Linked DNA regions of Homo sapiens: regions 1, 2 and 4 are each linked to region 3. Evidence: fine-mapped expression QTL. A gene starts in region 3. Each other region holds a variant in brackets. All regions are shown on one strand. Distances are between the middles of the regions.

What was found. PIP is the estimated chance that this variant, and not a neighbour inherited with it, causes the effect.
Region 1: its variant is fine-mapped to the expression of TNPO3 in whole blood (INTERVAL, PIP above 0.99).
Region 2: its variant is fine-mapped to the expression of TNPO3 in whole blood (INTERVAL, PIP 0.93).
Region 4: its variant is fine-mapped to the expression of TNPO3 in testis (GTEx, PIP 0.96).

What each region holds. Positions count from the first base shown.
Region 1 is chr7:129,079,731-129,087,672 of GRCh38, reverse strand. No RefSeq gene overlaps it. Among named protein-coding and RNA genes, the nearest start is that of TNPO3, 29 kb to the right of the region's middle. The variant T/A (reference allele first, on the strand shown) is at 3,468.
Region 2 is chr7:128,923,173-128,931,114 of GRCh38, reverse strand. No RefSeq gene overlaps it. Among named protein-coding and RNA genes, the nearest start is that of IRF5, 11 kb to the left of the region's middle. RefSeq lists an enhancer at 1,362-1,862. The variant A/T (reference allele first, on the strand shown) is at 4,110.
Region 3 is chr7:129,051,306-129,059,247 of GRCh38, reverse strand. TNPO3 (transportin 3) reads left to right here and starts at 4,137. Exons shown (of 23, transcript NM_012470.4): 1 at 4,137-4,597. The coding sequence starts at 4,478. It also overlaps the pseudogene TPI1P2. RefSeq lists a silencer at 2,999-3,293 and enhancers at 2,999-3,293, 4,105-4,604.
Region 4 is chr7:128,931,912-128,938,004 of GRCh38, reverse strand. It overlaps IRF5 (interferon regulatory factor 5), which reads right to left and starts at 78. Exons shown (of 9, transcript NM_001098629.3): 1 at 1-78. RefSeq lists silencers at 1-211, 2,946-3,035 and enhancers at 1,456-1,750, 3,166-3,285, 3,556-3,605, 4,187-4,356. The variant G/A (reference allele first, on the strand shown) is at 2,835.

The sequences.
Region 1 (7,942 bases), 28 kb before region 3:
TAGCTGGGACTACAGGCGCCCGCCACTACGCCCGGCTAATTTTTTGTATTTTTAGTAGAGACGGGGTTTCACCGTTTTAGCCGGGATGGTCTCGATCTCCTGACCTTGTGATCCGCCCGCCTCGGCCTCCCAAAGTGCTGGGATTACAGGCGTGAGCCACCGCGCCCGGCCGAATTTTATTTTTTTTAGAGATAGTGTCTCGCTCTGTTGCTCAGGTTGGAGTACAGTGGCATGATCGTAGCTCACTGCAGCCTCAAAATCCTGGGCTTAAGTGATCTTCCCACCTCAGCCTCCTGTGTAGCTGGGATTACAGGTGCAAGCCACCATGCTGGGCTAATTTTTAAATTTTTTGTAGAGATGGGGTCTTGCTATATTGCCCAGGCTGGTCTCGAATTTCTGGCCTCAAGCCATCTTCCCATCTTGGCCTCCCAAAGTGCTGGGATTACAGGTGTGAGTACTTCACTGGTCTGCAGCTTTATTTTTAGTAGCCAAAAATAGGAGCCAATCCAATGACTCAATAAATGAATGGCTAGACAAACTGAAGTATATTCATATAATGGAATGACCTCAGTAAGTGAACATTTTTTCAGTAACAGCTTTATTGAGATATAATTCACATAGGTAAAAATTAGCCATTTTAAATATGTAATTTTGTAGTTTTTAGTATATGTACGGGTTGTGCAAACACCATCACAATCAATTTGAGAATATTTGTATTACCCCACAAAGAAATTCTGTACCCTTTAGCAGTCACCTTCATTGCCCCCAGCCACCCTCACTCTGACCTGGGCAACCACTAATCTACTTTCTGTCTCTATTTGCCAATTCTGGACATTTCACATAAAAATGGAATCAGGCTGGGCATGGTGGCTCACACCTATAATCCCAGCACTTTGGGAGGCCAAAGTGGGCGGATCACTTGAGGCCAGGAGTTCAAGCCCAGCCTGGCCAACATGGCGAAACCCCATCTCCACTAAAAATACAAAAATTAGCTGGGTGTGGTGGCGCATGCCTGTGATCCCAACTCCTTGGGAGGCTGAGGCAGAAAAATTGCTTGAACCCGGGAGGTGGAGGTTGCAGTGAGCTGAGATTGTGCCACTGCACTCCAACCTGGGTGACAGTGACACCCTGTCTGAAAAAATAAAAAATAAAAATAAAAATAAATAAAAATGGAATCATACAATATGTGGGGTTGGTATGTGTGTGTTTGGCTTCTTTCACTTAGCTGAATGTTTTCAAGGTTAATCTGTGTTGTGGCGCGTATCAGTGCTTCATTCCCTTTTATGGCTGAATAATATTTCACTGTATGGATAGACCACATTTTGTTTATCCATTCCTCAGTTGGTGGACATTGGAGTTCTTTTCACATGTTGACTATTATAAATAATGCTGCCATTGGCCAGCTGCCGTGCCTCACATCTGTAATCCCAGCACTCTGGGAGGCCAAGGCAGGCAGATCATTTGAGGTCAGAAGTTTGAGACCAGCCTGGCCAACATGGTAAAACCCTGTCTCTACTAAACAAAATACAAAAATTAGCTGGGTGTGGTGGTGGGCACCTGTAATCCTAGCTACTCTGGAGGCTGAGGCAGGAGAATCACTTGAACCCAGGAGGCAGAGGTTGCAGTGAGCCGAGATCGCGCCACTGCATTCCAGCCTGGGTGACAGAGCGAGACTCCGTCTCAAAAAATAATAATAATAGGCTGGGCGCAGTGGCTTACGCCTGTAATCCCAGCACTTTGGGAGGCCGAGGTGGGCGGATCACGAGGTCAGGAGATGGAGACCATCCTGGCCAACATGGTGAAACCCCATCTATACTAAAAATACAAAAAATTAGCCAGGCGTGGTGGCGCATGCCTATAATCCCAGCTACTTGGGAGGCTAAGGCAGGGGAATCACTTGAACCCAGGAGGCGGAGGCTGCAGTGAGCCAAGATCACGCCACTGAACTCCAGCCTGGCGACAGAGCAAGACTCCACCTCAAAAAAATGTATAATAATAAATAAGGAATAATGCTGCTATGAACATTCATATACTGGCTTTTGTGTAGACACATTTTCTCATTTCTCTTGGGTATATACACTTAGGAGTGAAATTTTGGGGTCAAAAGATACCTCTATGTTTAAATGTTTGAGAAACTGCCAGACTGTTTTCCAAAGTGGCTGCATCATTATACAAGTCCACTCACTAGCAGGGTATGAGAGTTCCAATTTCTCCCTACCCTCACTAACAGTTGCTTTTGTCTGTTTTTTAAATTTTTGTCATCCGAATGGGTGCGCAGTGATATCTCATTGTGGTTTGTTTTTAGTAACAGCTTTATTGAGAGATAATTCAAATAGCGTACGACTCACCCACTTAAAGTACATGCAGTAATGTGGATAGATCTTAAAATAATTAGACCAAGTGAAATAAACCAGACAAGAGTAAGGACTTTTGAATAAAAGCTATGTTAACTGGAAATAAAAGAATAAATATTGTACGATTGTATTCCTATAAAATTCTAGAAAATATAAACCAATCCATAATTACAGAAAGCAGATAAGGGACAATGGGGGGTTGAGGAGAGAGTTTGGGGGAAGTTTCCAGGAAGAAGGGATCACAGGAGGACACAAGGAAACTTTTGGGGGCTGATATTTATTTTTATTATCTTTTTTTTTTTTTTGACAGCCTCTCACTCTATCGCCCAGGCTGGAGTGCGGTGGCATGATCTCAGCTCACCGCAACCTCCACCTGCCGGGTTCAAGTGATTCCTGTGAACCACCGTGCCTGGCCTATTTTCATTATCTTGACTGTGGTCATGGTTTCACGGGTGTATATGTATGTCAAATCTTATCCAATTACACTATAAACATGTAGTTTACTGTATGTCAATTATATCTCAGTAAAGCTATTTTGAAAGAATACAAAGGACTCTACAATATTCTGTCACCTCCCCTTTGTCATGTCACTATACTTTTACCCTGAAAGCTCCCTCCAAACCATATCCCTTAAAATTTATTTATTTATTTATTTATTTATTTATTTTGAGACGGAGTTTCACTCTCGTTGCCCAGGCTGGAGTGCAATGGCGTGATCTCGGCTCACCGCAACCTCTGCTGCCCAGGTTCAAGCAATTCTCCTGCCTCAGCCTCCCGAGTAGCTGGGATTACAGGCACCTGCCACCGCACCCAGCTAATTTTTTTTGTAGTTTTTAGTACAGACGGGCTTTCACCATCTTGGCCAGGCTGGTCTTGAACTCCTGACCTCATGATCCACCCACCTAGGCTTCCCAAAGTGCTGGGGTTACAGGCGTGAGCCACCGCGCCCGGCATGACCTCTGTTTTATACCATTAACTATGAGATTAACAAAAACCTTTACCTTTGTGCAGAAGGTTAAAAAAAAAAAAAGCATAGTCAAGGAAAAGGAGATGTGTTACCTCTTCATACACTCCTACAACCATGGCATTGCAAAAAATAAAAATAACCACCTT[T/A]AAAAAAAAACCTAATTTAAATTGCTGTTCAATAATAATAATATATGTAAGATGATTAGATCAGTTCCTGGCATATGGTAAATATAGGTAAGTGTTTGCTATTTATTTTTGAAGCAAAAATGAGGATTTGTCAAAAATTGGGTGAGCAGCTACTTATGGAGGATAAAAGAACCTTTCAGGCTGTTTGGGAAAAGCTTCATTCTAAGTTTCTTCTTTGTAAGAGGACCTATTGCTGCCAGCACTTCTCTTGCTAACAATTCTGGTGGGTGATTTATCTTCGTTCTGCATTTCTTTCCGTAGCTCCTGTAGACATTGAAGGTAGGGTGAACCTGTTACTAAGGGGAGATACAAAAGTAGTGCAGGGGGTAAGATTAATCGCATGGGAATGAAATATGCTCTGAGCTTCTGAACATTTGTTACGTGAACCTGAGGAATGAAATGATATACTGAGCACTCCACAAGCTGTTTTTTCCGGTCAGTTGTCTGGTCAGAAATTTGTTAACTCACTCCTCCCTGATTCATCACACTGTCAGAAAGCTTGTATAACACGGAGTCTGAAGCATTCCAGAATCTTTCTTTTTTCTTTTTTTTAATAGAAATGAAGTCTTGCTATGTTGCCCAGGCTGGTCTCAAACTCCTGGGCTCAAGTGACCCTCCCACCTTGGCCTCCCAAAGTGCTAAGATTACAGGTGTGAGCCACCACATCCAGCCTAGAATCTTAAATTTACTATTGTACTTTGGGACCACAAGAACTTAAAAGTAAGAGGAATAAAATTATCATGAATATTAGTTAGAATTCAGTTTGATAATAACAGAAAAAACCTAAAACACCGGCTGGACGAGGTAGCTCATGCCTATAATCCCAGCACTTTGGGAGGCCAAGGTGGGTGGATCACGAGGTCATGAGACCATCCTGGCCAACATGATGAAACCCCGTCTCTATTAAAATACAAAAAAGGTTAGCTGGGTGTGGTGGTGCAGGCCTGTAGTCCCAGCTACTTGGGAGGCTGAGACAGGAGAATCGCTTGAACCCTGGAGGTGGAGGTTGCAGTGAGCTGAGATTGCGCCACTGCACTCCAGCCTGGGCAACAGAGTGAGACTCCGTCTCAAAAAAAAAAAAAAAAAAAAAGAAGAGGAAGGGGAATTATTACATCAGAGGGCAATTAGCAATCATTTTTTTTTTTTTTTTTTTAGATGGAGTCTCGCTGTGTCACCTAGCCTGGAGTGCAGTGGCTCGATCTTGGCTCACTGAAACCTCCACCTGCCAGGTTCAAGTGTTTCTTGTGCCTCAGCCTCCCGAGTAGCTGGGACTACAGGCGTGCACCACCATGCCAGGCTAATTTTTGTATTTTTAGTAGAGACAGGGTTTCACCATGTTGTTCAGGCTGGTCTCGAACTCCTGACCTCAAGTGATCGGTCTGTCTTGGCCTTCCAAAGTGCTAGGATTACAGGCGTGAGCCACCGTGCCCGTCCTAATCATAGAAAGTTAATAATAAGATCAATATATAATTAGCATGTGACAAAAAAGCCTGGCTCCTAGGATTTGATTGTTTAAATTAAAAGATTGAAAAAAATCTGTTTGTTAGAAGGGGCATTGTTTAGCATGGATTCTTGGAAGAGGACACTTCTGGGAGGTGGACATAGGCATTGCCCATCCATGTATTGGGCACAAAGGAAATCACAGCCTTTAAATGACAAAACAACTTATAATGGAGATGTGGAGGCAGGAGGTTGTAACCAATGGGATGTGAGTACTCTGCAGTAAGTAACCTGTTGGTGAGACCACCTCTATTATAGGATGACTGGCCTAGGCTATCTTAGCCTCACCTGTTACCACTGAACCCTGGGGCTTCGTCTAATTTCCATGTGTTTTCCATGGCCACTTGGCAGTCAACTTTCTCATTTTCATGGCGACCTACCGACCAGAGAGAATATGCTGCAGAGAGAGACTTGTAGGGGAGAAGTAGCTGACCCTGTAACAGTCCCAATTATCATGGTCAATGAGTGAATTGGCAGCCCGGCGTCTCCCTCAGCCTCCTATGTCCCTTTTCCAATGTGAGTCTGTTCTCAGAGTCTGGTCCTCGCTGTGTATTGCCAGGGGTGAACCTGTGGTCCTTCAGGGTGGAAGTTCTGATCCTGAAAAGTGTGATTGCCTGGCCAGGCGCAGTGGCTCACGCCTGTAATCCCAGCACTTTGGGAGGCCGAGGTGGGTGGATCACGAGGTCAGGAAATCTAGACCATCCTGGCCAACATGGTGGAACCCCATCTCTACTAAAAATATAAAAAATTAGCTGGGTATGGTGGTACGCACCTGTAGTACCAGCTACTCGGGAGGCTGAGGCAGGGGAATCGCTTGAACCTGGGAGGCGGAGATTGCAGTGAGCCAAGATCACGCCACTGCACTCCAGCCTGGCGACAGAGCAGACTCCATCTCAAAAAAAAAAAAAAAAAAAAAAAAGGTGATTGCCCTGAAGGAGACTTTTCCAGCTCCAAACCACTTCCCTTAGATGACATCAATCAGCTCTCTGCTGGTTCGAAGAATATGTTGAAAACAGTGTCAGAGTTAGCTATTTTCATTTTATTATAGTTCTTTGAGAACTGGGAAGAGACAGTGGGAGTGTCTTGGAATATATATTAGGTTTGGTATCAAGAAACTGGTCTAAATTCTGTTATTGCCAGTAACTACCTTTAAACCTCAGTTTCCTCATTCATTTGTAAAGTGGAGCAAACTCATAGCTGTCTTGCTCGCCTTAAAGCTTTTAATGCAAATGGTAAAACTCCTTTCTAAAGTAGATTATTATTCTGTGAACACCTGTGGTATTCAGAGTTTAATATAAAGAAATACGATCAATATCCATTATAATTACACCTTGTTTACAACTTTTTTTTTTTTTTTTTTTTTTTGAGACGGATTCTCGCTCTGTCGCCCAGGCTGGAGTGCAGTGGCGCGATCTCTGCTCACCGCAAGCTCCGCCTCCCGGGTTCACGCCATTCTCCTGCCTCAGCATCCCAAGTAGCTGGGACTACAGGCACCCGCCACCATGCCCGGCTAATTTTTTTGTATTTTTTAGTAGAGACGAGGTTTCACCGTGTTAGCCAGGATGGACCTTGTCTATAACTTTCAAGCAAAATGTCTTAGTTGGTAGAATACTCAGCACCTGTACCATGTCAGATAGTTTACAGTACCCAGAGGCACTAAAACATGGTTTTTGTCCTCTGTGAGCTTGTGGTTTTCCCCCTAATATGTTCTCTTTTTTTTCCACAATGAAAATAGCTTTTAAAAACATAAATATCATATATGCTGGTAGAGAAAAATAGAAAAGTATAAGAAGAAAGTAAAAATCTCCTTAAGGCCGGGCACAATGACTCACACCTGTAATCCCAGCACTTTGGGAGGCCGAGGCAGGAGAATTGCTTGAGACCAGGAGTTCCAGACCAGCCTGGGCAACATAATATTTGTCTTATAAATTAACATACTGAGACCCTGCTTCTACAAAAAATACAAAAATTGGCCTTGGCTACAGGTGGTGCTTGCCTGTAGTTCCAGCTACTTGGGATGCTGAGGTGGGTGTATCACCTGAGCTAGGGAGGTGGAGGCTGCAGTGATCTGTGATCGTGCCGCTCCACTCCAACCTGGGTGACAGAGTGAGACCCTGTTTCAAACAAAACAAAACTCCTTCAAATCCATTGCTCAGAGGTAATCACTGCACATTTTGTTTGTTTGTTTGAGACAGAGTTTTGCTCTTGTCATCCAGGCTGGAGTGCAAAGGCACCATCTCGGCTCGCTGCAACCTCTGCTTCCCAGGTTTAAGCAATTCTCCAGCCTCAGCCTCCCTAGTATCTGGGACTACAGGCTTGCACCACCACGCCTAGCTAATCTTTGTATTTTTAGTAGAGACAGGGTTTCATGATGTTGGCCGGACTGGTCTCAAACTCCTGACCTCAGGTGATCCGCCTGCCTCAGCCTCCCAAAGTACTGGGATTACAGGCATGAGCCACTGCGCCCGGCCGATCACTGCACATTTTGGTGCTCTCCCTAGCTGGCCTCATTTATAGAAGTGTACAAATGTAATTAGAGGGGGAAAATTGTAATCATCAGAATGTAAGAGGGGAAGGCTTGTGTTCCTCTTGTGTTTCAATATAATTTTTTTTTTTTTTGCAGGAGGGAAAGGTAACATGCATGCATGATAAATGATTCAAATAGTAAAAAGTGTATAATCCTGTAAAAGTATGTCTTTCTACTTTCCTTGATTTACAGCATCCTTCCCCAGAGGAAACTTGTGACCACCATCTTGTGTTTCTTTTTTGAGAATTCTTTGCTTAGCTCTGTATTCCTTTGGATGAAGTTTTAAAATTTTTGCCTTATAAATTAACACACAGAACAGGCGAGGTGACTCACACTTGTAATTCCAGCGCTTTGGGAGGCCAAGGATTTGGGAGGATTACTTGAGGCCAGGAGTTTGAGACCACCCTGG
Region 2 (7,942 bases), 130 kb after region 3:
AAATTAGGGGATCGGATGTGGGGAAGGGCTGACCACTAAGGGACGGCATGAAGTGATGGGAACGGTTCTGTCTCTTGACTGTGCCAGTGTTTACACAACTCTCCACCTTTGCCGAAACTCCTAGAACCGTACACTAAAAAGAGTGAATTTTACTGTATGTAAATGTAAAAATTTAAAAATGTTTCATGATTCAGAAGATTCAAACTCTCAACGTCAAGAAGTTTTGGCTGGGCACAGTGGCTCATGCAGGTAATCCCAGCACTTTGGGAGGCTGAGGCAGGTGGATCACCCGAGGTCAGGAGTTTAAGACGAGCCTGGTCAACATGGTGAAACCCGTCTCTACTAAAAACACAAAAAATTACTCGGGCATGGTGTTGCGTGCCTGTAGTCCACCCTACTTGGAAGGCTGAGGCAGGAGAATCACTTAAACCTGTATAAAAAAAAAAAAAGGGAGTTTTTTAGGAAAAGCTTAACTAATTTATATGGTTTGTATTTTCCTTTGTACCTAAGCAAAAGACTTATATATGTTAACTGTTTTAAAGAAGTCTTTCAAGTGTGTCTAAAATAAAGATTTTAAGTAATTTTCTTTTTTTCTTTTCTTTTCCTTTTTCTTTTTTTCTTTTTTCTTTTTTTTTTTTTTGAGACAGAGTCTTGCTCGTGTCACCCAGGCTGGAGTGCAGTGGCACAATCTCAGCTCACTGCAGCCTCCGCTTCCCAGGTTCAAGCAATTCTCCTGCCTCAGCCTCCCGAGTAGCTGGGACTACAGGCACCCACCACCATGCCTGGCTAAAGTTTGTATTTATAGTAGAGACGGGGTTTCACCATGTTGGCCAGGATGGCCTTGATCTCCTGACCTCATGATCCTCCTGCTTCGGCCTCCCAAAGTGCTGGGATTACAGGCATGAGCCACTGTACCCGGCCCTAAGTAATGTTTTTTTAAATAGAAAAGAAAGAAAAAGAACAGATCCAAGAAGCATCCTTCACCAAGAGGCAAGGTAGTGCCGTCTTCTCTCCACTCTCCCTCCCTCCCTCCAGCCTGGCTCTTCTGGGCCATCCTCCAATTGTCCTGCCAGTCCCTCTTCTGCTTCCCCCACAGCTCTTGGGAGACTGAGCACTGTCTCCAGGGGTTTGGTGATGTCCAGGAGGCTCCCTGGCTACCCCAGGGACCCAGGCCGAGAGCCCACGCTCCAACTAGGTGGCTCCAGGTGAGGATCCTGGCAGGACACAGGTGATATTGGACAGAGGAGAGTTGAGTGAAGTGGACACTTGCAAAGGTGTAGACAGGGTTCTGAAAGCCACTGTGGAGTTTCCAGGCATCCAAGGCCTAGCATCAGCTGGGAACCACCTCCACCCTCAGAGGGGCCGTCCTTTGGGACCTGTGGCCCTGGGAACGTTGCAGGCAGAGGGAAGAAATCCCTTTTCTTCCATTCTGTCGCCCTCCTGTCTCTTGCCCATACCTCCTGGTGGGAGGGGCAGAGCTGGCCCGGGGACCGTGCGTGTTCTGAGTGCCCCGGGAGGCAGGCTGGTGGCAGCTAATGGGGGGAGGGAGTGCTTTCCCCCTGGCCCCTGGCAGGGCTGGGAAGGGCCTGACGCTGAGCTGGGCACCTGCACACCTGTGCGTGTGCATTCTCTGACCTGCATACCCCAGTGCAAGTCCTGGTCTGTATGTTAATCACCCCTCTTGCTCCAGGTATATCTCCCAGGAGACTCAGGGGTTTGGTGGAGGCCACGTGGGCCCACCAGCCTCGACTGTCCAAGGGTGCAGAGGCGGAGAAGGAGTGAGGCCCAGATCTCATGGGGGAAGACCTTGCAAGGGGCTCTGAGCCTTTGGGATCCAGGAGCCAGCACTGGGATTGGGGGTGAGGGCCAGGGTGGGAGGTCAGAGGCCTAGGGCAGGTCCTCTCCTCTGCGGTCTCCCACATGGATCCTCAGACACTGTACCCCCACCTCTACCTTGGACCAGCGCTTGGCAGGCAGCACCCTGCACTACTGTGTGGTGGATGCCAGGAAGCTGAGCATCACTGGGATGAGGGGCAGGGGCCTGGGGTGAAGATGAAAGGGCAGAGCTTCCCTCCCAATATGCACCCCACCCCCAACCAAGGGCTGAACCCTGGCCCCTCAAGCCCTCAGTCAGGCCCCTGTGGAAGTCTAAGTGAGTGGCAGGGCACCCTGTCCTACTGGGTGGACTCTGGTGTGTAGGTGATCCTGTGTCTTCACCTTGTCCCATGGCACACCTGCACCCTGGTCTCTGGTCTATTTCCAAAGATTTCCAGATGTGCAGAGAGTGGGTTCCAATAGGGACCCAGTACTTTCTCAGCAGGGCTTCAGCTGACCAGAGAAGGCAGAGCATTTCACCAGCCTCCACTCCCGATGCCTCCCCACATCAGATGCCCCTGCTCTGCCCTTCATCCCCTGTCTGCCTGCTAGCCAGTCCCAGCTCAGGCCTTGACACATTTTAGGATGTGCAAGGGAAGGGTGGGGCAGCTGCCATTCTCACTGAGCCCTGCCCCACAGTCTTATTGGCCCCTGGTGCAGAGAGGAGTGTGGACAGTTCAGGGGCTCACGATGGGAGGCATTCAAGGCATGGGACAGAGGTGGCAGAGGCAGTTGCCAGGGCAGCCAGACAGCAGTGGTGCCCAGACCCTAGGACACACCCTTTAATCCTCACCCCAGACCCCTGTCCTAGGGCCGGGACATCTATTCTGACTCATAAATCTGAGGTGATTCCCAGGGCCGTGCAGCCCAAAAACATGCCCATCAAAGCTACAGCCGCTGTATTGCTCACTGGGGCCACCTATGGCCATCTCAAGGCCCCAGTTCTCCTCCTTGGGGCTTCCTTGTCCAAGGCCATGCATCGCTCTTCAGGCAACTTTCCCGCTGTGGCCTCCGCCCAGGACCTTTGCTGTGGACAGCTTACCTGGATGGGACAGGAAGATAGTGTAGTACACTGCCCACAGGTAAGCCCTAGACCAAATATGATGAAAATCACTAAAAAATGTAGTTAAAAAAATCATTAAAGGAATTAAAATGTCCCACTAGAAATATTCACTTAATGTAAAAAAAAGCACTGAAGGAGAAATAGAGGAACAAAAAAGACATCACATGTTTAGAAAATGGCAGATGGAAATTCAACTATGTATATCGATAATGTGAATGGATTAAACCAGGGGTCCCCAACCCCTGCACCATGGACTGGTAGTCGTCTCTGGCCTCTTAGGAACCAGGCCTCACAACAGGAGGTGAGCAGCAGGCAACCACCTCCTGTCAGATTGTGGTGGCATTAGATTCTCATAGGAGGCCAGGTGCAGTGGTTCACACCTGTAATCCCAGCACTTTGGGAGGCCAAGGCGGACAGATCGCCTGAGGTCAGGAGTTGGGACCAGCCTAGCCAACATGGCACAACGCCATCTCTACTAAAAATATAAAAATTAGCTGGGCCTGATGGTGGGTGCCTGTAGTCCCAGCTACTCGGGAGGCTGAGGCAGGAGAATTGCTTGAACCCAGGAGGCAGAGTTTGCAATGAGCCAAGATCTTGCCTCTGCACACCAGCCTGGGTGACAAAGTGAGACTCTGTCTCAAAAAAAAAAAAAAAAGATTCTCATTTTCTCATAGGAGCTGGAACCCTATTGTGAACTGCACATGAGAGGGATCTAGGTTGCACACTGCTATGAGAATCTAATGCCTGATTATCTGAGGTGGAACAGTTTCATCCCGAAACCATACCCCCCCACCACCCACCACCACCACCCTCCACTGTGGAAAAATTGTCTTCCATGAAACCAGTCCCTGGTGCCAAAAAGGTTGGGCACCACTGGATTAAACAATCCAACCAAAAGGCAGAGATAGTCAGACCCAATTTAAAAATAAGATCTGTCCAGTTGCGGTGGCTTATGCCTATAATCCCAATACTTTGGGAGTCCAAGGCAGGAGGATTGCTTGAGGCCAGGAGTTTCAGCCTGGGTAACAAAAAGAGACCCCGACACTACAAAAAATAAAATGAAATAAAAATTAGCCTGGCATGGTGGCACACACCTGTAAGTCCTAGCTACTCAGGAGGCGGTAGTGGGAGGATCGCTTGAGCCCAGGAGTTCAAGGTTACGGCTAACGTG[A/T]TGAACCACAGCACTCCAGCCTGGACAACAAAGAAAGACATCTTATCTCCAAAAAATAACAATAAAATAAAAATAAATTAATTTAAAAACACACAAAATAAAAACAAGATCCAACAATATGCTGTTTACAGGAGGCACACTTTAGATTTAAAGATGTAAATAGATTTAATAAGAGGGTAGAAAAAAATGGATATCTACCATCGTGGTGGCACACACCTGTAATCCCAGCTACTCAGGAGGCTGAGGCACAAGAATTGCTTGAACCCAGGAGGCTGAGATCACGCCACTGCACTCCAGCCTGGGTGGCAGAGTGAGACTGTCTCAAAAAAAAAAAAAAAAAAAAAAAAAAGCTAAAACCAAATATGCATCCAAAACTCAAGCTGAAAAGTAATATTTCCCCTCCACTTTGAACAGCCCTTGAATGACCTGCAATTGATCAATAGATTTTGGAGCGAGAGAGCCAGCACACTGATCAGGAGCACTAACAAGGAAGTAATAGATCCCTGGAGGGTGAAGAGTGAAGCCCCAAAACTGGTCTCCAAGGAGTTAGATACCAAGAGTCAGGAGGACGTGCTGTGGTAGGAAGCCATGCATTAAGATTTTGCCCATTCTTTTGAAGTGATAACCAAGCGTAAAATTTTTGCAAAACTTTAGGAAAGTAAATGGAGGTATTATCAGAGTCATATGGCATCTGTTGTCCTAATGTTGTATCATACTATTTCATATTAATTTAAATTTATTGTATCATGTTTCATCATGTCACCAATTGTAATTATGCAAATATTATGTACCACTAAGAAAAAAAACTGCCAAATAAACCAATACAATATTTTTATCTGTGTTTTAACTTTTCTATTTAAATGGCCTTTTGAATTTATTTAGACAAACATGTTAATTATATATAATTCTTGTGAATAAACAAGGGGAAATGTAAGAGAAATAAAAAATTAAAATTATTAAAAATTATATATATATATATATATATGATGATGAAGGGGCTCAGAAGTTTATTAGTCAAACTTCCAGGCAGATGAGTAGAGCAGAGACAGAAACTCTACCCTAAACTAGTAGTTCACAGTGACTATGCTGATGCCCAGAGGTTTGTCCTGATCAGTTCTGAAATGTCTTGCAACGAATTTCTTACAGCAATAAACCACCAAAGTTTTTGAATGATTTACTTTTTAAAATACAGAATGTTGATTTATCGTTATCCACTTTAATTAAAAATGTTAATTACTCTGGTTTGTTTGATTTCCAATGTATTTCATATATATATATTATTTCCTACATATATATATAGCAAACAGCAACCATAAGAAAACTGGTGGGGCTGTATTACTGTCAGACAGAGTAGATTTAAAATTTTTTTAATTACTGAAGATAAAGAGGGACATTTTACAATGATAAAAGTGTAATCCATCAGGAAGATGTGATAATTATAAACATACATGCAACTAACATCAGAGCCATACTTCACACAATATATAAAAATTAACTAAAATGGATCAAAGACCTATATAGAAGAGCTAATACTATAAAACTCCTATAAGTAAATATAAGGATAAATCTTCCTAACCTTAGATCAGATAATGATTCCTTTAAAATGACACCAAAAGCACAAGCAACAAAGAATAAAACATAAATTGGATTTCATCAAAATTAAAAACTTTTGTGCTGCAAAGGACACCATCAAAAAAAGTGAAAAGACAACCGACAGAATGGGAGAAAATATTTGCTAACCATATGCCTGATAAGCAACTTGTATCTAGAATATATAAATAACTGTTACAATTGAATAATAAAAAGACAAAAAGACAAATAGCTCAGTTTAAAAGTAGGCAAAGGATCTGAATAGATGCTTCTCCAATTAAAATATATGTGTCTAATGAGTACATGAAAAGATGCTCAACATCATTACTCATTAGGAAAATGTAAATCGAAACCACAGTAAAATACCACTCACACTTACAGGATGGCTATAACAAAAAAGACAGATAATAAGAAGTATTGTCAAGAATGTGGAGAAATTGGAACCCTCACTTACTGCTGTTGTGTGTGAAATGTGCAATAGTGCAGCCACTTTGGAAAACAGTCTGGCAGTTCCTCAAAAGCTTAAACATAGAGGTCGGGCGTGGTGGCTCATGCCTGTAATCCCAGCACTTTGGAAGGCCGAAGTAGTCAGATCACTTAAGGTCAGTAGTTTGAGACCAGCCTGGCCAACATGGTGAAAGCCCGTCTTTACTCAAAATACAAAAATTAGCCGGGTGTGGTGGCACACTCCTGTAATCCCAGCTACTCGGGAGGCTGAGGCAGGAGAATTGTTTGAATCTGGGAGGTGGAGTTTGCAGTGAGCTGAGATCGTGCCACTGCACTCCAGCCTGGGTGATGGAGCAACACTCCGTTTAAAAAAAAAAGACAAAAAAAGCTTAAACATAGAGTTACCATATAATGCCACAATTCTATTCCCTGTTACAGATGAAAGCACATGTCCACACAAACTTTGTATATGAATGTTTAAGCAGTATTCTTCATAACAGCCAAAAAGGAGAAACAACCCAAATGTCTATCAACTGATGAATGGATAAAATATGGTATATAAATGCAATGGAATATTATTTGTCAATAAAAAGGAATGAAGTACTGCTACATGCTACAACTTAGGCGAGCCTTGAAAACATGCTACATGAAAGAAGTCGGACACGAAAGACCACATATTGTATGATCCTGTTTAAATACAATGTTCAGAATAGGCAAATCCACAGAGAAAAAAAAATGTAAATTTGTGGTTTGCTTTGGGAGAGGATAGGGTACAGGATTTCTTTTCGGGGTGATGAAATTTTCTAAAATTGATTGTGGTGATGGTTGCACAACTCTGTGAATATATTGAATTTTTTCTTTTTTTTTTTGAGTCAGGGTCTCGCTTTGTCACCCAGGCTGGAGTGCAGTGGTACAATCATGGCTCACTGCAGCCTCAACCTCCCAGGCTCAAGCAATCCTCCTACCTCAACCTCCCAAGTAGCTGGGACTACAGGCATGTGCCACTATGCCTGGCTAATGTTTTATTTATCTTTTTTTGTAGAGACAGGGTCTTGTTATGTTGCCCAGGCTGATCTCAAACTCCTGAATTTAAGTAATCCTCCCGCCTCAGCCTCCCAAAGTGCTGGGATTACAGGCATGAGCCACTATGCCCAGCCTAAACTATTAAATTGTATACTTTAGATGGGTAAATTGTATGGTATGTGACTTATATCTCAATAAAGCTGTTACAAAAAAGGGGAGCGCCCTGAGATCACCACTGGGTGCCAGGACATCTGGTGCCCTGGGAGGGCCCCAGCTGCGGTTTTGATCCACTGGCCTCTAACTACCCCCTTGCATTGGACGCTCCTACTTCATATTACTTAGCAGCAGCAGCTGCCATTCCATGGCCTCGGCTGCTGTCTAAGGTCCTGTTTCCCTCTAAACAGTGGGGTGGGACTTATGGTGCTGTGAGGACAGGCTGTTGTCCAGAGGACCCTTGGCTAGTCTTGACCCAAGCTCCTGAGAGATAATGTCTCCTCTGGCCAGCCAGCCGGGGAAGGCAAATATTGGCAATTCAGGGCCTGACTACTAACGGAGTCAAGAGAATAGCTGACAGGTGCTGAGCTGCTCCAAAGCATAGGGCCCTTGGCAGGTGTAGGCTATACGCCCTCCTCACCCAGCCCCCAGGCTGCTCAACGCCAACAGGTTTGTCTGTTGGGGGTCTGAATTCTGCAGCCACAAATCAAGATCACAGGAGCAGGGGCCAAAGGGGCTTCTGAGTCTCAGGACCGCCCCCCAACCCAATTCCTGGGCAC
Region 3 (7,942 bases):
TCTACTCTGGGTTAGGTATCACCTCTATTTTTTTTTCTTTTTTCTCCAACTGTTAGCTAAATATCCATGTGGTGTTTTAATAATTCCTAACCATAGAACTTTTAAAAATAAGTTTTATTGAAATATAGTTCACATTGCCATAAAACTCATCCTTTTAAAACATATAAAAAACATATGCCAGTGGTTTTTAATATATTCATGAGGTTTTTCTGAACATCGTCAATAATTCCAGAGCATTTATTTCCATCAATACAAAAAAAAACAAAACCCAAAACAAAAAACCAACCCTGGAAATGACCAATCTACTGTCTATATTTAGAATTTTGCCTACTCTGAACATTTTATGTAAATAGAATCGCGTAATTAATGTGCCTTTTGTGTCTGGCCACTTTCACTTAGCATAATTTTTCAAGTTTATCTATATTGTAGCATCTATCTGTACTTCATTCCTTTTAAGGGTCAAATAACCTTTCATTGTATGGATATAGCACACTTTGTTTATCCATGCATCAAATGACGGATATTGGGGCTGTTTCTGCCGTCTATTATGAATAATGCTGCTATGAATATGCACGTGCAAGTGCTTGTATGCACACACGTTATCATTTCTCTTGAGTATATACCTAAGTGTAGAACTGCTGGTTCATATGATAATTCTATGTTTAACATTTTTTTGAAGAGCTGCCAAACTTTTTCAACATGGCCGCACCATGATACAATCCCATGAATAGTGCATGAGAGTTCTGATTTGTCCACATTCTCACCAGCATTTATCATTTTTTAAATTTTAGTTTTTCTAGTGGGTGTGAAGTTGTATCTCATTGCAGTTTTGATTTGTATTTCCCTGAGGGCTAATGATGAGCATCTTTTCATGTGCATTTGTATATCTTCTTGGAAGAAATGTCTATTCAAATTCACTGCCCATTTAAAAAACTGAATTATCTGAGGCCAGACATGGTGGCTTACGCCTGTAATTCCAGCACTTTGAAAGGCTGAGGCGGGTGGATCACTTGAGGTCAGGAGTTCGAGACCAACCTGGCCAACGTGGTGAAGCCCTGTTTCTACTAAAAATACAAAAATCAGCCAGGCATGGTTGTGGGCACCTGTAATCCCAACTACGTGGGAGGATGAGGTACAAGAATCGCTTGAACCCAGGAGGTGGAGGTTTCAGTGAGCTGAGATTGTGCCATTGTACTCTAGCCTGGGCAACAGAGCAAGACTCCAACTCAAAACAAAAAAACAAAACACACACACACACACACACACACACAAAACAAACCCAAAAACTGAGTTGTCTTTTCATTGTTGAATTGTAAGAGTTCTTTATATACTCTGGATACTAATCAGTTATCAGATATGTTATTTGCACATTCCCTTCCATGTTGTGGACTGTTACTTCACTTTCTTGATAGTGTCCTTTGATACACACAAAAAAATTTGTTTTGAGATATGGTCTCACTGTTTCCCAGGCTGGAGTGCAGTGGCACAATCTCTGCTCACTGCAACCCCCACCTCCTGGGCTAAAGCAATACTCCCACCTCAGCCTCCTGAGTAGCTGGGATTAGAAGCACCCACCACCATGCCCTGCTAATTTTTTTGCATTTTTTTTTGTAGAGATGGAGTCTCATTTCATTACCCAGGATGGTCTTGAACTCCTGGCCTCAAAGGTAATCCTCTTGCCTCGGCCTCCCAAAATGCCGGGATTACACAGTTGTGAGCCACCAAGCCCAGCACTAAATTTTTTTTTAATGAATGAATGGATTAGGTAACCAAAATATCAAGTTTCTTTTTTCTGTCTAAAATTGTATCAACTCTGTGCAGTAACATTGTTTTCATCATGTTGTTGGCAGTTAAAAATTCCTTGACTAACAATTCAGAAGCAAACGAATGCACAAGATGATAGGGATTGTGTGATTTAACAGGTTTTGGAGCAACACTGATCTGGATTCAAATCCTAACTTTAAGAACTGTATCCTTGGGCAAATTACATTACTATTTTTCTTTCTTTAAAATGCGTTTTTTTGTTTGTTTTTTAAGTGCCAGGGGTTTATTTCCCTCACATGTGGGATGGCTCACATACACAACACACAAAGGCGTTGGCACCGTGGGAGAGGGCAGCACCCCTGGCTTCTGCTTGGCCTCACAGTGTAAGAAGGGAGAGGATGGGTTCTCTCTCCTCCCCTCACTAGGGCCTAGGGGACCCAGGAGCAAATTCCATCCCTTTCACCTCTCAGCCAAGGAGAAGCCACATTGGTGACATTTAGTTCCAACAATTACAGTAAGTGGAGAAGGGATTGGTCTGGTCCCGACCATTACACGGTGAAGGTATACATAGTAAAGGAAGATACAGTTTGGATGAGGCCACAATAGGGTGCAGATGACACCATCAGAAGCATGTGCAGGGGAGGGGCAGTCACTCAGCTTCTGGGCTGCTTAGTTCCTGGGTTGGCAGGAAGGGTAGGGAAGACGGATGGGGCTCATTGTTTGGCATTGATGATGTCTACGAATTCGGGCTTGAGGGAAACACCACTCATGAGGAAGGCAGCCACGTCAGGCTGGCTGGCCAGCTCCTTGCAGGTTGCCTTGGTCACAGAGCCTCCATAAATGATACCAGTGCTCTGAGCCACTGCATCAGAGATGTTGGACTTAAGCCATCCTCGGAGCTTCTTGTGTACCTCCTGGGCCTGTTGGGGTGTTGCAGTCTTGCCAGTACCAGTGGCCCACACGGGATCATAGGCCAAGATGACCTTGCTCCAGTCCTTCACATTATCTGCGATGACCTTTGTCTGCTCAAAAACAACCTTCTCAGTGATGCCAGCTTCCCTTTCATCTAGCTTCTCCCCAATGCAGGCGATTACTCCGAGTCTCTCTGCCAGAGCATGGGCCACTTTTCTGCCCAATCAGCTCATCTGACTCCCCAAAGACACGCCTTCTGAGTGCCCCAGGACCACACCACCCACGTGACTCCTAAGTCTTTGACCATGCCAGGGCTGATCTCCCCAGTAAAGGCCCCATTAGTCACTTTGTAGCAGTTCTGCGGAGCCACAGCAATCTTGGGAGCTAGCTTCTGCCGGGCCAACTCGTTATACGCAGTGGCGAGAGCACAAATCACCTTGGTGTCGGCAGGCACAGTGGCCGCGTTCTGAGTGCCGATGAGCTCCCCCAGACATTTCTTCCGCCCGTTCATCTTCCAGTTCCTCCCCACGAAGAACTTCCTGGAGGGCGCCATGGCGCTGGAGCTGAGGCGCTGTAGGTCAGTGTCAGCGCCTAAAACGGGTTTTATTAATACTTGGCAAGGTTGTTAGGCGGATTAAATGAGATCTTGTAACTACAGTGTTTTACACATTGTGATCATTTATCAAATAGCAGTTATTTACTAGTGCAAAGGACTAGCAGCAATGTTAATATCAATATACTGTTACCTTTTGTCCCTAATTTCTCCATAGTACAGTTTCCAATATTTCTGTTTTCTTTTGTGAATTGTTAGACCACTGGTATTGGATTCGGACAGAAAGGCATTCACAAAAATACAGTTCAATGTGAGAATAACCCTAAAGATGTATGCAAAATGCTCTGGAGTTAGAGCACCAGGAGCTGTAAGCAGAATGAAGACCTCTTTTGGGCTTAAGAACTAAGTAAAGGGGAGCTGAACAAAGATTCTAGGCATTTTGGATTTATCTCAATGTGGCACATATTTCAGGTTTGTAAAATAGTTCAGTTGACTACGTGTCTGTCTCCTCCACTAGAGCCAGCGTAGGTACCATGTCTTAAGTCATCTTTGGATCTCCAGTACTGTGGCCACTCTAGGGAGAGTTGAATTGACGCGCCTTGATCACCAGGGCAGAAAAGGATTCTCTGGAGAGGGATGGGGCAGTCGGAAGGGGTAGGAAAAACCTGGATCCGTTTCCAAGGAGCTGAAGGCAGCTCAGATATGGGGCACATCTCGGCGCTAATGTCCCAAGCTGCTAGCGAGGAACAGAGAGAACACCGGCTCTTCTTCCCGGCTCCTGGCCCGGCAGGGTTACTTCCGGGAGGGGGCGGGGAGACAAGAGGAGGCGTGCCGGGAAGGAGGCCGTTTGTAGTGTACCAGGCGGAAGTGTGCCAAAGGTATCGGTGCTGTCGCTTCCGGTCCGGGTAAACGAACCTTAGGTACACTGGTGTGTGGCCTCCCAAGATAGGCTTCTGAGGGCAAGTCAGCGACTGAAGACGGGAGCGCCAGAATCTGTGGACTCAAGAGTCTAGAATCAAGTGGAAAAACCGGAAAAAAGGCCAGGAACCTGAATACGACCTAATAGCTGTTTCCGAGGGGGCAACTTCCACGGAGAGCCTTCTGCCCTGGTAACGGCCAAAGAGGAGGAGATGGCGCCAGTCAGGGAGCGGCCGTGGCCCAGACAGTGAGGAAGCGCGAAGGCGGAGCAACCGAGGAATCCTCCGGAGAAGAATCAGAGCCGTCGCTACCGCCACTACCGCCACCACCATGGAAGGAGCAAAGCCGACATTGCAGCTCGTGTACCAGGCAGTGCAGGCGCTTTACCACGACCCAGATCCCAGCGGAAAGGAGCGCGCCTCTTTTTGGCTTGGGGAGCTGCAGCGTTCGGTGAGGGGCCCAGAGAGGCAGTTCTGTGCCGCACGGCCGGGGCGGGGTGGAACCTAGGCTCCGGGGGAGAACCTGAGCCCGGCAGTTGACCTCGTGAGGTCCTCCTTGGGGAGGAGCTGCTGTCGTGGGGTGGGGCTGCGAAGCTACATCTTTGCCGCTTTTGGGAAACTAGTCGCACCTGATCGGTCGCGAACTGGCCCTTTCCCCACCCGGCAGAATCTGATTTGTAGGTCTTATACTCTTCGATTGTGGCATCAATCTAATCTTGTTTAAGTTCTCCCTTTGCCGTTGCTTCTTGGGCCGTGCTTTTCCGTTTTGTCTTCCTCCCACCAAATCCAACCCCAGTGTTTCTCCACCTTCCGCTTAAGAAGGCTTTATTCGTCTCCCCTCCGTGTCCAAGACTTGCATCTGGCATTTTGCTCCCAGTCGTAGCCTTATGCCTCACTCTTTTTGCCTATTTTCACTCCAGTTTGAGTCTGTTCTTCTCGAAACTTCTCAGGTTTCTAGATTCTTACTCATGCGAGTTTTCCCCTTGCTTTGGAGTGGCAACATAATATGAAGAAAAAACAGTAATTCTGCTTTCAGAAAATCTTTGGAGTTCTCATTTTGTTTCATATTAATCCTCTAACCTTGTTATTTCTCTGGCTTTTAGATTTTTATTTATAAGATGGGTATCACTGCTGCTTTGATTATTCCATATAAAACTGTGTGTGCATCCGGTGAGATATTTAATTGTAGCTTATATCTGTTGTATTTCTGCATTCTTTGATTCATGTTTTATGCTTCCTGCCCTAATTTTCACACCTTTGCTGTGCTTCATTTCTGTGTAAATGTGTATTCTTGGTTATCTGGCTGACTTAGGTTCTAATGTAGGATGTACTTTAAAAATTAAGTACTTTGAAAACTAAAGAGGCTTTTTTTACAGGCTGACAAAATACTCACCTTTACCTTTATTTTTGCATTTTATACTCACAACCATATTTTTTTTGGCCCCCTTCCCTTTATTTTAACTCATAACTGATACTTAAAGGTGCTCTGCCTTATTAAATCAGCTCCTAGGCTGCAAGTGCATAATATTTAAAAATTTGCAACTTTGACTTTTTAAAAATCTGGTCTTGGTATGGAGCAACTTTGCCTTTTTTTTTTTTTTTTTTTTGAGACAGAGTCTCGCTTTGTCGCCCAGGCTGGAGTGCAGTGGTCCCATCTCAGCTCACTGCAACCTCCTCCTCCCGGGTTCAAGAGATTCTCCTGCCTCAGCCTCCCGAGTAGCTGGGATTACAGGTGCCTGCCCTGACACCCGACTAATTTTTTTTTTTTTTTCTTGAGACAGAGTCTGGCTCTGTTGCCCAGGCTGGAGGAGTGCAGTGGTGCTATCTCGGCACACTGCAACCTCCTCCTCCCAGGTTCAAGTGATTCTCCTGTCTCAGCCTCCTGAGTAGCTGGGATTACAGGCACACGCCACCACACCCAGCTAATTTTTGTATTTTTTAGTAGAAACGGGGTTTCGCCATGTTGGCCAGGCTGGTCTCTAACTCCGACCTCAGGTGATCCGCCCGCCTCGGCCTCCCAAAGTGCTGGGATTATAGATGTGAGCCATCGCCCCCCGCTGCAACTTTGACTTTGAATATTAAACCTAAAAAACTGGCACCCAAGTCCTCTTCAGAAAATAAAGGAATACGACTCACTGTAGGCTACACAAGAAAATCATTCACATATGGTCTCATTTAGTGTTTCTGTGATCTCTGGAGAGTCAACAATTCCCTGATCTTTGTATAGTTTTCTAAAGTGTAATTAGGAGAAGTGCTACACTATACTAAAAAAGTAATCTCTTTCTAATTAAACCTGCTTGTTGTGTGTATTTTAAATCAATATTTGAGTGCTTACCATGTGCCAGCAACTATGCTGGGTGTTTGGATTTGGAAATGAACCAGACAAAAATCTCTGCTTACCACAGAAGGTAGTTGTGATTAAATGAGTTAATATTCTACGAAGAGGTTAGAAAAGTTCTTGGAACATAGAGATTAAAATGTTAGCAATTGTTATTTAAGTATTAGTCACTTTTCTCTCCTTACTTTCCAATACTCTATTACAACCTTACATCATCTTCACCATCACAGTTAATAGTCAGAGTCCAGACAGGAACAGATGGCACACTTGACAGGATAATCTGAGTTTATTTTATAAAGATACTATTATAAAGATTTAGGTATAGTGGTGTGACAAGAAATAGTTTGGTAACCTATAGCTGAACGGTTAACATCCCATAAAAGAGGGAATAGTTACTTGAAAAGTATGGAGTTGGCTGCCTTGAGAGGAATGGTGACTTTCAGCCGAAGGGACATAGCTAGTTTCAGGTGACCTTGAGAGAATGAAGCTGGAGGAATGAATATCCTGACCCTGTTCTCTTAATTTCTTGCTGGGATTCCCCATTGGCCAAACCCAACCGGAAGCCAGGGGCACAGTGACCTGTTGGTAAAGTCTATACAGGTCAGCCTATTGGAGCAGAAAACATGATAGAGGAGGGTGGAAAAGTGGATCTGGAAAATATCCAGCAGTAACACATCACGTTTAGGCAACTTCAGCATCTGGATTGACAGTTCAGCTAACACTTTGGCCTTCTGATTCCTTTACCTCTTCATTCTCTTTAGCCACCTGGTCACACAATCACACCCTGGATCTTGTCTTTACTAAAAAGCCACCACCCAGGCTGGGCGTGCAGTGGCTCACGCCTGTAATCCCAACACTTTGGGAGGCTGAGGCGGGCGGATCGCTTGAGGTCAGGGGTTTGAGACCAGCCTGGCCAACATGGTGAAAACCCGTTTCTACTAAAAATACAAAAATTAGCTGGGCGTGGTGGTGCGCACCTGTAGTCTCTGCTACTCAGGAGGCTGAGGCAGGAGAATCTCTTGAACCCAGGAGGTGGAGGTTGCAGTGAGCTGATATTGTGTCACTGCACTCCAGCCTGGGCGACAGAGCGCGACTCCATTTCAAAAAAAACAAAAAAGTTGCCAGCCAGGCCAGGCCCATTGGCTCTTGCCTGTAATCCCAGCACTTTGGGAGTCCAAGGTGGAGGATCCCTTGAGCCCAGGAGTTCAAGACCAGCCTGGGCAACATAGCGAGACCTCATTTCTACAAAAAAATAGGAAAATTAGTTGGGTGTGGTGACATTTGCCTATAGTCCCAGCTACTCAGGAGGATCCCTTGAGCCCAGGAGTTCAAGACTGAGTGAGCTATGATTTCGCTACTGCACTCTAGCCTGGGAAACAGCAAGATTGTACAAAAAAAAAAAAAAAGTCACCACACCTCCAAATCACTGATTCAGACATTCTGCTGTGATCATAACCC
Region 4 (6,093 bases), 120 kb after region 3:
GGCGGCGGGACCAAGCTGAGCTCTGCCCAGGCTGCGCCTCCCGCCGGTCCGCCAACCTGCCGGGCACTTCCGCGTCTTGCCGCCCCCGCCCCTGGGCAGCTGCTGCTGAGCTCCGGGCGCGGGCAGTGCCCCGCCCCGCCCCGCGAATCCACTCCGGGCCCCGCACTGACCTGGCAACTGCAGATCCGGGCTGAGCCTCGGGCCAGGCCCAGGGCCTCCAGGGAGATGCCAGACGGCGCGGTGCCCTAGACTGGCCACTGGCTCTTTTGGCAATCTGGAATGGCAAAACTGTCATTTGACAACCCCGTACCTCCCGCTGCAGTGCTCAGTTGGGCCCTGGGAGAGGGTGGGGTGCTTCCCCACTCTGGTCCTCCGGGGCTGCACACAAATGAGGGCGCAGTGTGGCCGACCCACAGCTCCAGGCCCTCCTCTCGCCTGCCTACACCCCTGGCGAGGGTGGCTCTCGCCCTAGAACACAGTCGCTGCCCCCAGGATCCAGACACCCCTTCCAGATGTGCTTGCAGGCGGGAATCCTCTAGTCACTCTGTGCCTTTCTCATCCTCAAACCCTGCACCTGTCTCGCCCCAGCTCCCCTAAGTCGCCTTCCAGTCATCCCAGGGGCAGCGGCGTGGTCGCCTGTCCCACCTCCTCTCACTACTACCTTGACCGTCGACCTGTGGTTCTGAACCGTTTTCGATTCCATAAAGAACCTCACCCCAGAACCTCCACCTTCACACACCTCCTGTTCCTTCTCATGGAATGTTCTTCGCTTGGTAACTCTTGCTCTTCAAAATTTCTGTTTCTGAAATTTTCAGCATCGCCTTCTCTGGAAAGTCTGCCTTGACTTCCCCTCCCAGGTGGGGTTCCAGGGTGCAAATAGCTTCCTGGTTGATTTTGCTTATGATTTTGTTATGGATTGCCAGGGGTTTGGTCCAGGTCTGGCTGCTCACCGCACAGAAAGCCTATCACTGAGACAGCGAGTATTGCCAGGGAAGACTTTATTCCGGTGACATCAGCCAGTGAGCTGTTGAGAGGGGAGACAAACCTCCAATCCATCCCTCCCCTTGACTAAAGTTAGGGGCTTATATAGCAGGGAAGGAAAACAGGAGGGACAAGGAAGAGGAATTGGTCAACAGGCAGCAGGTGTACTGATGTAAGTGTCTCAAGCTTCAGTTCTATGAGCATCTGGCTTTTTGGAAAATTCAGCGGGTTTCAATTTTGATGTCTGATTTCCACTCGAATCAGCTTACTCAGGAACCTCCCTCCTGTCTTTTCATTGTTCATTTTATTTTATTTTATTTTTTGATATGGAGTCTTGCTCTGTCACCCGGGCTGGAGTGCAGCAGTGCGATCTCAGCTCACTGCAACCTCTGCCTCCCCAGTTCAAGCGATTCTCCTGCCTCAGCCTCCCAAGTAGAGACGGGGTTTCACCATGTTGGCCAGGCTGGTCTCGAGCTCCTGACCTCAGGCGATCCACCCGCCTTGGCCTCCCAAAGTGCTGGGATTACAGGCGGGAGCCACTGCGCCAAGCAGAGCCTTGTATTTTTAACAAATAAAGTAGTATTTGTTGATGAATCAGAACTTTGACCTTCCCTCCCCTCCCTTCTCCTGGGTTGAACTTTACCTTTAACAAGTTAAAAAAAGACACTCATGTGTTAACGTTTTTTTTTTTTCTCTTCTGTATCTCTCCCTCTTTCCTGACCTTTGAAGCCCTAATATGAAGTCGAAATATCATTATATATAAGTATTTTATTATTTGTATCTGCTGAGTATTTCATTATTTCATATTTTTAAAATTTAAAGTATGGATGGGGAAAATGTGAATGGGTAGATCGTTTTATATTTCTTTCTTTAAAAATGAAATTGCTAGGCCAGGCACGGTGGCTCACATTTGTAATCCCAACACTTTGAGAGGCTAAGGCAGGCAGATCACTTGAGTCCAAGAGTTCGAGACCAGCCTGGGCAATATGGCAAAACCTTGTCTCTACAAAAAATACAAAAATTAGCCTGGCGTGGTGACACACACCTATAGTTCCACCTACTTGGGAGGCTGAGGTGGGAGAATTGCTTGAACCCAGGAGGCACACCACCGCACTCCAGCCTGGGCGTAGAAGTGAGATCTTATCTCAAAATAATAATAATAAAATGAAATTGCTATTTCAAAAGTGGCTCCCCACAAAATGGGAACCTTTTTCACTGGAGGTCAGTTATGCTTAATAGAAAAATATTCTATGCTGGTCGTATCTGGAGCAATAGCTAAGAAGAGCCTTCTTTTGTTATCAAATACTCCTCACCCATTCTGAGGGACCGTGAGACCCTAGAATTCTGCCCTCTGCCCCCTTCCCACTGTCCATCTTGCTCAGGTGAGGCCCCTTCCTTAGAGCCTCTGAACCTCAAGAAGCAGCACGGGCTGCGTGCAGAGAAGGGGCTTGCACCTGGCTTTGCTGTATTCCAGCCAAGTGGCCTTAAGTAGGACCTCAAATCTCATTTCCTCGTCTCTAAAAGGGGGATGATGTTACCAAGCCGGCAGCATTGATATGGGGCTCCCGGGATAGAGGCTATGCAGGGGCTCAGCTTGGCTCAGATCCTGACTTCCCTCAACTGAAAGAACCTGAGCCAAGAATCATCTGGGGCCAGAGACATGGCCCAGGAGAAAGGAAGGACAGAGAGCAGCACTCCAGTGTTTCCAGGATCTGGGATCCCTTGGCCTCCCAGTGCCATCCTGGGGGTGGAAGGGCAAGTAGAGGGGAAGTGAAGCCACACCCGGCCCTTGTGTGAGCACTCCCATTTCCCCTTGATGGGCCAGGAGGCGGTGGGGACAGGGAGGTCTGTCC[G/A]GGCCCCCCACTCCCCACAGTGAGATGGCCCCTTCCCCCATTTCCCCTGGCTGGAATATCACAGACTGAGGGTGTGGTAGGAGGCACCCTCCCCTGACTCGAGTAGAAGCTACGCTGTGTGAGCGAGTGTAGAGTGGGGTGGCTGGGGTGGGGAGCAGGGGGGAGGAGGGAAGCCGTGTCACCAAAGGGAACTGAAAGAAACCCAGAGGCCCACTGGGCAGCTGAACAATGCACCCTGGCTCTGGAACAGCCCCCTTCAGTGCAGCCTGGGTTGATGACAACTGCCTTTGCCTCTCAAAACCTCTACCCCAGGAAACCCACCCCCTCGGCCTGGGCTCTCAGGGGTCCCCAGGCTGACTGTCCTATTTCTCAGAAACCCCGAGTTTCTGAGAACTTGTTGGCTGGACATCAGGCTCTGAGGTCAACAGGTCTGAGTCAAATCCTCACTCTGCAATCTAGAATTGCGTGACCTAAGCAAGCCATTCACTCCCCCAGAAGCCCCATTTCCCATCTGTAAAGGAGAATGGTGACACCAGTGTCACGAATTGGCTGTGAGTCTACATTCAACAATGCTTATCGGGCATGTTGTACCTGCCAGGATAAAGTGGTGGACAATTTCTACTTTGTCTAAAAACCCCTGCCCTCCTGGAGCTTCCATTCTGCAGAGTAAGATAGACGATAAATCCTCAAGTAATGAAATCGGGTGAGGCCTTGAGGGGCACCTCACAGGCTATGGCTTTGCTAGGGACAGTCACTGAAAGGTTCAGATCTGAGGCATGACATAGTCTGATTTAGATTTTAACACCTCTTGGCCGGGTGGGGTGGCTCACGCCTGTAATCCCAGCACTTTGGGAGGCTGAGGCAGGTGGATGACCTGAGGTCAGGAGATCGAGACCAGCCTGGCCAACATGGGGAAACCCCGTCTCTACTAAAAAAAAAAAAATACAAAAGTTAGCCAGGCGTGGTGGTTCATACTTGTAATCCCAGCTACTCGGGAAGCTGAGGCAGGAAAATTGCTTGAACCCAGAAGGCGGAGGTTGTAGTGAGCCGAGATTGCACCATTGCACTCCAGCCTGGGTGACAGAGCGATACTCCGTCTCAAAAGAAAAAAGAAAAAACAAAAAAACACCTCTGGTTCTCGTACTTGAAGTGTTCACTTGCTTTGAAGTTTCTGGCACATAGAAGTAGTATCTTTTTTTTTAGGATTAATGCCCAGGGCGCCACAGCTGGGCCTTCCTCCCCATTTCTTACTAACACCGGCTCAGAGCTTTTTGGGGTGTGACCTGGAAGTCCCCCATTCAGCCAGCACTGTTACATGGACACCTCTACACTCGGAGTCTCCACCTTTCCCAATCCATGGCTCTGTCTTCACATGGCCTGTGGAGGAAGCTGCCCGGGCCCTTGCTCCAGGCCCCGACAGGTCACCTGTCCTCTCTGATGCCTGCAACCTGGCTCCTGCCCTTGTCGGTGGAATCTGTTCTGGCCCCACCCTGTCCTCCAGGCCTTGGATCCACAGCTCAAGCAAGCCCTGAAACCCACGGGAACTCCCCCAAAACTCCAGTCTCTACCTACCTCTCTCACTTAAACCCTCAGATCTTGGGATTTCACTCTTTCCTAGATTTCTCACCATCCCCTTTAAATAAACGTGCTGAAGCCCTCTCACTTTCCTCCGGGATTCCTCTCCCAGCTCAGCATCCTGAGTCTGCGCCTCTGTGCCCCTGTCCCCCGCGGGCCTCCAGGACACCGGCCCAGAGTTTCTCTCCTCCCCTACTGGCTGCACGTGGTCTGATTCAGTGCTTCTAAAACTTGCTTAGCTCAGCACTGTGCTCAAACCACTTCCTTCCCTGCTCCTGGGCTCTGTTACGGAAGGGGTGGGACATCCATCCTTCCTGCATGTCTCGAGGGCTCGCTGTGGAGCATGAGGCACCTGGACAAGGAGGAAAGGGAAAAGGACAAAGTCTAGCTGGAGACCCCAGCCTTCTAGGGCCACTGCTTTGTGGGGACAGATGCCAATCCAGCCCCACAGGCACCAGCCAAAGACCTCCGGTATGCACTTTTGTCCCAGAATGAGCCTTGTTGAAGCTCAGCATCTGCAGATGTCCCAGCCAGGCCCACGAGGTCCACCCGTCTTTGATGTGGGGTAAAGGGGGCCACCAGCCTCAGACTCTGAAGCATTTCTGAACCAGATCCATCTCAAGCCTCTGCAGCTTAGAACCAAGGCTAGGGCTGCTCCTGGGCAGGATGGTGGTCCCTCCCAGGTGGGCTCAGATGGGAAACGGGGAGAGACTAGATTCTCTCCAGGATGGCAGGGCCAGCCCAAGGGCATGGGGTGCTCTCCTCAGAGTGGTGGGGAGGTGACAGAGCTACCCTCTGTGGGGGACCCCTCCAGGGCTGACCCCAATACTCTCTGGCCTGCAGTCGCTGATGTATTAGGTCATGGGAGGGGTGTGGGGTATGACGTTCCTCTCGTGTGGCCTCTCGACACTCAACCATGAGGAGGCATATCCCGGCTGTCCCTCTCTGGCCCCTGACGGGTAGGGTGTGGGGGTGCGTTGCAAGTTGAGAATTTCAGGTGTGAGGCAGGAAGGAGAGGGAGCACTTGGGGGCTGGCAGCTGCACAGAGTTGCAGGGCCTGGTGTTTGGCTCTTGCCAGCTGCTCACCCCTGGGCCAACACTATGACCCTATGGGTCAGGCCTTGGGGGCTCTTGGTGGGGCACCCTCCAGGAGTCTGTCCTGTTCCCGTAGCCTCTGATTCTGGGAGCAGAAATTCAAGGAAGCGGAGAGCCTAGGGGCTGAAGAACCCTGGCGGGGACCATGGGCCAGGGCTCCCTCTCCTGTCTTGAGCCCTCTCAGGGAAGAAGAGGGTGTCAGGCCTCATTAGAGAGGGTTCTGGGGGCAGGTTCTTACTAGGCCAGTGTCCCGGAGCCTTGGTGCTTTGCAATTCTCCAAGCCAGGAGCCAACTGAACTCTGACGCCCATCCAGACCCCTGTGCCGGACAGACTGGGCCCCTGAGTGTGCCGGTGGACCTGTGGATTCAGGAACATCTCCACCGACCCATGCCTGTCTCGAGGGTCGGGTCTCCTCTGTGTCTCCCGGCCTGTCCTCCTCCTTTCTCTCCTGGAGCAGCACCTCCAAAGCCATGGGGATACTGACATACCCTGATAACCTGTCCAGGGCCGTTGCTAGGGAGTAGGGGTGCAGGAGAAGTTAGGAAGAAGAAAGGGCAGCCTGCTCAGGCAAGAAAGAGCTTATGGTGC